Linked DNA regions of Homo sapiens: region 1 is linked to region 2. The links come from fine-mapping of genetic effects on gene expression. A gene starts in region 2. The other region holds a variant in brackets. All regions are shown on one strand. Distances are from middle to middle. Region 1 overlaps VPS13D (vacuolar protein sorting 13 homolog D). Region 2 holds the start of DHRS3 (dehydrogenase/reductase 3).

The links. PIP is the estimated chance that this variant, and not a neighbour inherited with it, causes the effect.
Region 1: its variant is the best candidate, but not a certain one, in a credible set for the expression of DHRS3 in whole blood (INTERVAL, PIP 0.73).

What each region holds. Positions count from the first base shown.
Region 1 is chr1:12,412,296-12,417,667 of GRCh38, forward strand. It overlaps VPS13D (vacuolar protein sorting 13 homolog D), which reads left to right. Exons shown (of 70, transcript NM_015378.4): 64 at 2,792-2,926; 65 at 4,365-4,532. Among named protein-coding and RNA genes, the nearest start is that of SNORA59A, 92 kb to the right of the region's middle. The variant TAATGTTGTCTATGAG/T (reference allele first, on the strand shown) is at 2,190.
Region 2 is chr1:12,615,910-12,621,281 of GRCh38, forward strand. DHRS3 (dehydrogenase/reductase 3) reads right to left here and starts at 2,301. Exons shown (of 6, transcript NM_004753.7): 1 at 1,245-2,301. The coding sequence starts at 1,439. RefSeq lists enhancers at 1,926-2,557, 2,558-3,189, 3,190-3,821 and a silencer at 4,057-4,308.

The DNA.
Region 1 (5,372 bases), 200 kb before region 2:
TGACAAGCTGATTCTAAAATTTCTCTGCAGTTGAAAAGCGCAAAGAGCAGCTAAGGTAACCCTGGAGAAAAAGTACAAAGTTGGGGAGAGCTTACACTATTCGATTTCAGAAATTATTACAAGACTACAGTAATTAAGACAGTGTGGCATTAGTAGAAAGCAGAGCAAAGTGAAACAGAAGAGAGAATCCAGAAATGGATGTATAATACCATCACGTGACTTTTGACAGCATTTATGCCATACTGCGGTAGTGGAACGGATGACCTTTTCAGTAAATATTACTTAGTTCAATATTTATCAGAAAAAAATGAATCTTGGCCACTCCCTCCTACCGTACATAAAAATAAATTCTAGGTGGAGCATAAATAAAATCTAGGTGTGAAGAGTAAAACAATAAAACTTGTATAAGTAAACGTGGGAATATCTTTATGACCTTGGTGTAGACAAAAATTTCTTAACCAGGACACAGAAAGCTCTTACCATATAAGAAAATATTGATAAGGCAGATTTCCTTAAAATTAAGACTGTCTGATCATTAAAAGACACCATTTAAAGAGTAGTAAGATAAGTCACAGAATGGAAGAAGATATTTGCAACACATCTGTTCAACAGAGGACTTGGTATACAGAATATATAAGAACTCCTACAAAGCAGTAAGAAATAAAAAACATGAACTCACTACAAAAATGAGCAAAATACTTCAATAAGCACTTCACAAAAAGATATCCAAATGGCTTATGCATTTAAAAGTTGCTTAATCTCACTTCTCAACTGAAAAGAGACTACGCTGAGGTACCATTACACACCCATCAGTTTATCTGTCAAAACTATGCTGAGATACCATTACACACTGTTCAGATTTTCTGGGTGTTTTTTTGTTTGTTTGTTTGTTTTTGTTTTTGGTCGTTGTTTGTTTTAAGTGACAGGGTCAGCCACGGTAATCCCAGCACTTTGGGAGGCTGAGATGGGTGGATCACTTGAGGCCAGGAGTTGAGCAACAAAGTGAGACCCTGTCTCTCCAAAATAAAAAAAAAAAAAATCAGCTGGGCGTGGTGGTATGTACCTGTAGGGGGAGGCTGAGGCAGGAGGATCACTTGAGCCCAGGAGGTCCAGGCTGCAGTGAGCCAAGATCCCGCCACTGTACTCCAGCCTGGGCAACAGAGACTTTGTTTTCTGTTTTTGAGAAAGAAAGAGTGAGGCAGGGTCTTACTCTGTCACCCAGGCTAAGTACAGTGGCATGATCTCAGCTTAGTGTGGCCTTGACCTTCAAAGTCCAAGTGATCCTCCTCCTCCAGCCTCCTGAATGGCTGAGACTACAGGCGCACGCCACCATGCCCAGTTAATTTTTAAACTTTTTGTAGAGACAAGGTCTTACTTCTTCACCCAGGCTGGTCTTGAACTTCTGGCCTCAAGCGATCCTCCCACCTCAGCTTCCCAAAGTGCTGGGATTACAGGCATGAGCCACCACTCCTAGCCAGAATATCTTTTTTTTTTTTTTTAAACGATCTATACCAAGTGTTGATGAGGGTGTAGAATAGCAAGGGATCTTGTAGACTGCTGAATGGAGCATAAACTGGTTTGACCACTTTGGAAAACTGTTTGGCAGAATATATTAAGATTGTGCATGTACATTCTTTATGACCCAGTTCCACTCCCAGGTATATGTCCAAGAAAAATGCATAAATGTGCCCCAAAAGACATAGCTAGGCAGGGAGCAGTGGTTCACAGCTGTAATCGCAGCACTTTGGGATGCCAAGGCAGGCGGATTGCTTGAGCCCAGGTGTTTGAGACCAGCCTGGGCAACATGGTGAAAACCCTTCTCTACAAAAAATACAAAAATTAGCTGGGCATGGTAGTTTGCACATGTAGCCTCACCTGCTAAGGAGGCTGAGGTGGGAGGATCGCGTGAGCCCAGGAGGTCAAGGCCGCAGTGAGCTGTGATTGTGCCACTGCATTCCAGCCAGGACAACAGAGTGAGAACCTGTTATCTAGTCTGCCATAGACATGTCTAATGTTGTTTATAGCAGCATTATTCATAATATCAAAAAGCCTGAAACAACCCAACTTTTGAACTTTTCATCAACAATGGTGGTTAAATACATTGTTTTATTCTTGCAATGGAGTATTTATATGGCAATGGACGTTAACAAACTACAGCTATATGCAACAATCTAGGAAACCCCCATATG[TAATGTTGTCTATGAG/T]AAGCCACCTACAACGAAGTGCATACTGATGATTCCATTTATATGCAGTTTAAAGCAGAAGAACTTACCTGTAGTGATAGATGTCATCACTGTGGTTGTCTTTGGGGAGGAAGGAGGAGGGAGTGGGAGCATGCTCATGGTGAGTGGGCTGCTTCCAAGATGGGGATAACAGTCTGCTTTCTGATCTGGTGGTGGTTACATTATTGTGTTCACTTTGGGAAAAATCATTTGGGTTTTGAACTATACATTTGATTAGTATACTTTTCTGTGTGTGTGGTTTACATCAGTCAAAAAGTAAAACATGACAAACAGATACAAAACAGACTAAAAGGAATTATGACACAAACTGATAGTGTTTATTTCTGTGTGATACATGTGACTTGGGTGATATATGTCTGTCTATATATGTATTTTTCCCTAGTATTTTACTTTTATAGTTATAGGGAAAATCCTTATTTATAAACATCAAAACCTGACCCTCATTCGAAAGTTAACATGACTTGTAGCTTTAATGGAATCTAGAATTATAGTATCACAGAAGGCCATCATATGACTTAAGTATGTCATTTCCTTTCTTCCCTAATTAGGCCCTAAAAAGCACCTTGGGGTTTCCTTTGATACGGTTTGAAGACGCTGTGATTAATCTAGATCCATTCACTCGGGTACATCCCTATGAGACCAAGGAGTTCATCATCAATGATATCCTCAAACATTTCCAGGAGGTGAGGCTTGGAGAAGTAATCATTGGCTGGAGCATAAGCAGAATGTTTGTTTTAGTTGTTTGGGAATTTTGGTTACTAAGGCATTACTATTGAGAACCCAGTTAAACATTTCAACTCTGTTGTGTTACGGGTCAGGTCACTTCCCAAGAAGCCCGTATGTGTCATGAAAATCCTGAGATAGTACATTTGACCTATGAGCTGTTAGTTTCATCCCTCAGAGCTAGTCTGAGGGGTTCCTGCTAGATTAATCATGACTCTTAATGGTTTAGTTGATGCTTTAATAATAACAAAATAATGTTTTTATTTACCAGGCATGGGCCTTCTTTCAGCAACTACACCCATGTTCTTAGAGTCTGTGGGATCCTGCATTTGGGTTGAACTTGAAATTTTTTAAATCACCTTGGACATTTTCCATTTTGTATTTATTATCCAGACTGCAAAGATCAAAAAGTAAAGGCAAGGCATAATCTTCAATGAATAGATAGGTCAAGATCGTATCAAATTTAATAGCTTTCAAAGTTAAAATATATTTTATTCTCACTTCCTTTTCTCCATTCCCCGTTTCCTTTTTTGACTATCCTAATTGGTGATATTTCCACCTAACTAAGGAAAGTGATACAGCAGATATCACTGGAACCTGGGATCAGGCAATTGGAAGTACAGAAAGAGTGGAGGGGCCAGTCATGGTGGCTCACACCTGTAATCCGAGTACTTGGTGGGAGGCCAAGGCAGGAGGATCACTTGAGCTCAGGAGTTCAAGACCAGCCTAGGCAACATATTGAGACCCCATCTCTACAAAATATAGAAAAAAAAGATTAGCTGGTTGTAGAGGTCTTGCCTGTAGTCCCAGCTACGGGAGGCTGAGGTAGGAGGACTGCTTGAGCCCAGGAGGTCAAGGCTGCAGTGAGCCACGGTGATGCCACCTCACCTCAGCCTGTGTGACTGAGACCCTGCTTCAGAGAAAGAAACAGTGGAGGTTTGCTTGATAAGTCTCTCCATGCCTTCTTCAGGCCCCCCACCCACACCACAGCTTATGAGAGGAACTGTAAATCTACCTCTCTTCCTCACTTTCCTTTTGTAATTCTCCCTGCTGGTGATTACTTCTCTATTTGTAGGCATGATGAAAAGGAGAGTATGATGTATATAGTAGCAAATACTCATAAGAATGCTTCCTGTTTCATAGCTATTTTTATTCTTCTAACTGGCTTGGAAGAGTATGTGTATTGGGATATGTGTATTGGGAGAAGCTTAGGTGGTGCTCCTGAAAGGACAGGAGATTATTTTGCAGTTGATGAAGATTAAAAGCTTTTAATCTCGTTACTTGTAGTAATGAGAATGGAGAACAAAATAGATTTCTAAGCTCTTCGCTTGGGACACTGGTATCTGCAAATATAAGTAGATGCTGATTGGACTTTTCTCTTCCTGTTCCATTTGGCAGGAACTCCTCAGCCAGGCAGCTCGAATCCTGGGATCAGTGGATTTTCTTGGCAATCCTATGGGGCTTTTGAATGATGTTTCTGAAGGGGTTACTGGACTGATAAAATATGGAAATGTCGGGGGCCTCATCAGAAATGTTACACACGGAGTATCAAACTCTGCTGCCAAGGTAAGGAAATAGAGGTGAAATTCCATTATAATTAACCTCACGAGTCCTCTACAGTACTACAATTTCTTTTATAGTTAATGGGCTGTGAAAAGTTATATTCATGGCTTTTGCTTCATTGCCCACATGCCTTGCCTTTTCCTCACCTCCAGTCACCTGCCACCAGGTGCACTGAGTCCACCTCTGAAATACCTCTTCCTCCTTCCTCTCCGTTGCCACTGCCTTAGTCCAGGCATTGCGTATGTCTTACCTGGGTCACTGCAATAGCCCCCAGCACCCTGGACCTTTCACGATGACCCCTACACCTTTCACTGTGCCACCAGAATGAACTCACTGGATTGTGCCATTCTCCTGCCTGAGATCTACCAGTTATTGCCCACAGTTTACAGGGAAAGTCCAAGCTGAAGTACAGCCTTCTATAATGACAACAACCTTTTAAGCCACCTGAAACCAGCAGCAGATGGACAGTGATGTCATTCTCCAGTATCTTGCAGCTAGTTGACTGGTTTGTTCACTGACATCTTAATTCGTGGACATTTTCTTAGTTCACTCTGTATTTTCTGGCAGGAATTGATTATATGCGAAGCTGGAAAAGGTGAAGCGAGTTGAAGGTAGTTGCTATTTGACATACAGCCCTCCAAAGAGCTCTGCTTTTTTTCTCTTCCTTTCATCTCAACACACTTTTCTTGTAGAGACTGGCTTTTTCATGAATGAACTCATTTGGAGGAAACACCTGTACTCTCTGCTTATTTACTGTGGAGAGAGCATTTTTGTAGTGAGATCACAGGTGTACTTGCGCCACAGGGTGATATGACATAAAAGTAGCTTTACCAAAGAGATCTT
Region 2 (5,372 bases):
AGTCCTGGACAGCCAGACCCCTGCTAGCTTGGCCACCACAGGCTCCGGCCAGCCCGGCTAGGGAAGAGTTAATCGGATCGGCTTTGGCTGATAGTTCAGGCTCCAAAGTTCAGTCCCAGTCAGAGCCACCCCGGAGGAATTGTAAATCTCAGGGCAGTATTTAACAAAACAAAAGCAACCTGGAATTACATGCAGGTTTGGTTTTCTACAGTACATATTTACTTAATCCCCAAGGTATGCGGCTCCATGTCAGATCAGCTGGCTTTGCGGCCCTTTCACCCCCCTAGTTCACAACAGTTTAAGTTTCAAACTAATTCCCTGTTTTCGCTCTTCCTCTTCACAGGGCTGGCTGGAGACAGCCTGGCCTGCCTCCCTCTCCTGATGGCTCTGGTCACCGCGTGAGTCAGCCTGGCCTGGGCTGGGAGTTGGGTGACAGCCTGCCCACTCTCCCCACTCTGGCACCAGGTCTCCAAAACCTGGAGCAAGGGGTGCCAGGACCACCAAAAAGTTAAAGGCCGTGTTTGGTGGGCAGGACCCTCCTTGCAGCACCACCTTCCAGCTAAATGGGGAGGGATCCCTGGGGGGTGTACTGGGGGGGAGGGGACAGGGTTGAAGGTGAGAACAAGGGCTCTTTATCAGTAGCTGCTTACCCTGGCCTCCTCTTTCCTGCTTTCCAAACACCTGGGCCTCTCAGTGTCGGTCCGGCCAGACTACTGCATACAAGACCGCTCTTCCCTTTTCAAACCCAAACCAAGTACCCTCTCTCGTGTCTTCAGAGCTGCAGCCGCCCAGGTTGGGGCTGGGTAGCGGGTTGCCAAGGAAAATACGAGGCGCCAGCTAGCAGGCGGCTCCCAGCTCTACCCAGGAGTGCGCACACCCTGCACTCACCAGGGTGGCGGCAAGAAAAAGGGGGGAAGGCGGGGGAGGGGGGCACAACACCTTCCTTTGGGAGGCAGGAATGTGGGAAATGGTGGGTCTCTTAGGTTTCAGGGTGGGGGTGAATAGCCAGTCAGCCAGCCACCGATCCCAAAGGAGCGGATCAACTCTGAACCTGCCAAAAAAGACAGTCCGGTGCCCGGGAAATTTACAAGGTGAAACCGACTAGCTCAGCACTCGTGGGTGGCGCGGAGAAGTGGGGTGGCCGGCGACTCTCAGCTCCCGGGCGCGGGATCCCGCAGCGGCAGCAGGTGGGCTTACCCCCGCCCCTGCGGCCCCCCACTCCCTGGAGTCGCAGTGCCTGGTACCTTTCTGGCGCCGCGCTCCGCGAACTCGCGGGCGAGCTGACGCCCGATGCCTCTCCCGCCGCCGGTGATGAGGACGTTCTCCCGCGACAGGTCCCGCAGCTTGGCGGGCAGCACCAGTCCGACGGCTGCTTTCACCACCAGATAGATCATCTGTAGAGGGAACATCACCAGCGCGCCCAGCCGTTTCCACACCATCCTCCGCGCCGCGGAGCCGGGCAGGGGGCGAAACTCCCCGGGCCGAGCAATACAGGAATTAAAAAACACCCCGAACAATAAATAGTAAACCGAATAAGGAGGAGAGAGGCGTCCCACCTGGCCACTCTTGAAATCACCTCTTCCCAAATGCAAAGCACCGGGTGAGAAAAAGAAAAAAAAAAAAAAAAAAAAGATAAATTCTCCTCTGGGGGAGAAAAAGCGTCTCCTAAGGTTGGGACGGTAAAAGAGGTGGAGGGGGAAGCCGGAGGTGGAAAGTTCTAACAAGAAGTTTCTTGCCCCAGCAGCCGTTTCGGCTGGGGAATTCTCAGGTAATGTTTACAGACTGACAGAGGAGTTTAGGGAGGGGAAGAAAAAAAAAAAAAGGCACCAACCACACGCGCGCACCCTGCCTCGGTCCCGCGGTTTCAAAGTGCAAGATTAAAAAAAAAAAAAAAAAAAAAAAAAAAGCTGATTCCAAATTGTAGCGCCCCCACCCCCACCCCGTCTCCAGAAAAAAAAAAAAAAAAAAAGTGGGGGGAAAAAGTGCTTGGAGCTCCCAATTTCAGCCCGCGAAAGTCTCCCGACTCATTGCTATTCTTGGGCTCAGGAAATTGCTTAAACGCGATCTGATTGCCAGCAACGTGCAGGAGAAGTGGGGGGTCCGGGTGTCAGTTTCTTTACGTGCAGCGCTCGCCCTCGCGCGCGCTCGCTCGCTCCGGCTCCCTCCCTCCCTCTCTGTTCCAGCAGAGGCTGGGAGTTGCCGCTCGATCCAGCTCCCCTTCTCTCCCTTTTTAGCATTTATTGCCTTCTTTTTGTCCTTTCCAACTTGGAGAGGGTCCGGGTGTGGAGCGCGCGTGGATCGGACGCCTTGGTCTGCGCGGCCCTATTCATTCGCTCCCCGGGCAGCCGCGTCGCGGAGAGGGCGGCCCCTTTTTCCCCCATTTTTTCAATACCCCATTAAGTCTGATTGACAGTTAAAGTTGTTGGGAGGCTTCACTACCGTTCCTCTGAGTGGCTGCTGCGGCCTCCCCTCCCCCTGCGCCGTCGCGGGGAGCGCGCATAAGGCGCGCACTCGGGCTCGCCGGGACTCGCGCTCTCCCGGGACTGGCTCCCCTCTCTGCAAGCCGGGACTTGCCGCCGGTGTCCCTGAGGGCTCGCAGCTGTAACTCGAACACGCTGGAACCGACTCCGGCGAGCCGGCTGCCTTCTCGAGACGTTCCTCCTTGCCCGGGCCGCCCGCGGGCCAGGTGATCACCCCGAGTGTGGAGCAGGCCCGGGGGAGCTTGCGTATGCCTTGATCCAACCAGGTCACCCAGGGTTTTATTTCAGGTCATTTGGTCATCCTCGGCCTCCAGGTAGGATCAGGAAGCCACTCCTCACCTTTGCCCGGACCTCTTCTGTGTTCACGTAGAGTGGACTTTTAAAAGCCTGACCCAAGTGCCTCACGATGCTTAGGGGGAAGCCGCTGGGGAGCAGGACTTTGCTTTGAGGGGAGGGAGTAGTCAAGGTAAAGGAACCTCTGCTCCGAGTGCCAATAAAATCCCCACAAGATTAGCTGGGAGCATATTTATTGCTCATCTGAGCTAGAATTACCTTGACTGACACCAATTTCCTTAATAACAAAAGCCTGTAAACAAAACGTCCTATTCGTGCGCCCCTGTGCTGTGCAGCCAGCGTCTCCTGTCCTTGGGTCTCCCTGGACTGCCCTGGCGGGGCACCCACCTTCTAACCTCCTGCCCTTCCCGACCGGAATGTCTCCCCTGCTGGAGGGTGGGACCGAGCTATTTAGAGTTGTCTGTTGCAGGAAGTCTGGGAGGTGAGTCACTAAAAAGCAGCCCCAGTTCAAAGTGCTGATGGGACTTGCCTCCCGCCCCCCTGCACGTTCCCGGGGCCGGAGGAGCGAGAGCGAAGCAGGGAGCTGCCCTGTAATCTGGGGCAGCCGTTTCCAGCCCGCGACTTGTTCAGACGGCGATTCCTGGGCCTCACCCCCAGAGATTCTGATTCAGCAGGGCTGGGTGCGCTGGGATCGGTACTTTCAATGCTCCGCCTGGTGAGAAAGTCACTTCGAAAAACGCTGATCTGCGGGGAGGGGAGGCTGGGATTACCTCGTCACCTGCAAAGACCTAGTTCTGGGGAGAGGTTCTGCAGGGGAGGATCTTCCTTCTGGGTGAAAAGCCACTGGAAGAGCAAAAGGCAGGAGAGGCTTAGGATGAGCAACTGTCCTGCACTGAGGGCCTATATTCTGACACAGTCCTTCCCCTGACCTTGCAATCGGGGGACTGTTATCCCATCGTCCAGGTTACCCAGCCAGGAAGTGCAGGAGGGGGGATCCCAATCCAAACCTCTTCCCACTCTGACCAGACGGGAGGAGAGAAGTGGAGGATGGGGTTCAGCTAAGGGTTGCAGAGCAGAGACCCCCCCACCCCCCTAACGCCCCCAAGAGTCTGACCGAAGGGCGGACCAATGTCTCCATCAGACCCCAGGGCCGGAATCCATTGTGGTGACGGCCTCCTCTCATCTTCGAGGTCTGTAAAAATGGGAAAGCGATTCCAGCCTGGGAGTGACAGGCCTTTCCCACCCAGCAGCGGCTGGTGTCCGCCAGGCCTGCGAAGAAGCCTGGAAAGATCTGAAGACAGAACCAGGCTGCAAAAGCGGGCTTTGCTCATCTGTTGTCCTCGGAGCCGCCTGGTGGCCCAGATAGGATACTGCGCCTCCGAGCTGCCCGGCCTCCAACCCAGCGGCGTTCCTGCTAACTAGCCATGCTTTTCTTCCAGGCATTTCTCTCATGTAAGGTTAACACCCCAAGTCTAAAAGGGCTTGTGAAGATCATAGTCCTCCTCCCCCACCCCAAACACACTTTTATGGCTGGGGAAACTAAAGCCAAAAGATATGAAGCAACTCATATACAGAGATGCATTTTCACCCCGGTCAGATGCCAGACCGGCTGGGTAACCGTTAGGTCCCTCTTACATCTCTCTGGTTGTGTGCCTGGGATGGAGGGCAGACGGTGGGAAGGAGGTCGGGAACCCAAATTGGCCTTTAGTGCCTCAGGGCCTTTACACAGTTTCTGATTGAATTTCCTTAACAGCCCAGGGAGGCTCGTGCCCATTTATTGCAGGAGGAAACAGGCTCAGTAAATCTAAGTAACTTGTGCAATGCCACGCAACCTGCTTCTCAAAAGGTTTGGGATGAAATCAGAGGGAAAAAGAACATGTCAGACATTCCCCAAAGGAACTGACAGTTCCAGAAGCTGGCCTGAGGTGGATGGTGGCCTTTTTTTCTACTTGGTCCATCTTTCAGGATGTGGTTTTTGTGGGACTGGCAGCTCTGCAAGCCACACGTTTCTCCCAGCATCAACTGCTCAGAGAGAAACTTGTCACCTCCTCTGTTGCCCTCCCCCGAGGTCCCTGGGAAGATGGGGCCAAGGAGACCTTGTGTGGGGGTGATGTGTGTGTGCACAGTTCAGCAGGCTGGCCCTGAGGGTCGTGTGGCCTGGCTTCAGTGAGAACAGCAGGGACACGTCCTCTCTGCCTTTCCCTCCCTCCCCCAGCCTTTATCCTTTGCTCTTGTACCCTCTCCTGGAATTTAACTCAGGGCAGAGTTTGAAATTTCACATCCCAGGTCTGTCCCTGAAAATGTGAAAGGAGGCTTTCTGGGCTTGAAGGGAAGAGGCGAGCTGCAGTTGGGAGAACTAACTTTTTCCGTGGCTCAGCTCCCCCGGTGCAGCGAGGATCCACACTCACCCTGTGGTTCCTGGACCAGAAGCCTGTTAGAAATGCAGAATCCAGGCCGGGTGCGGTGGCTCATGCCTGTAATTCCAGCACTTTGGGAGGCCGAGGTAGGCGGATCACCTGAGGCCAGGAGTTTGAGACCAGCCTGGGCAACATGGGGAAACCCAGTTTCTATAAAAAATACAAAAATGAGCCTGGTACA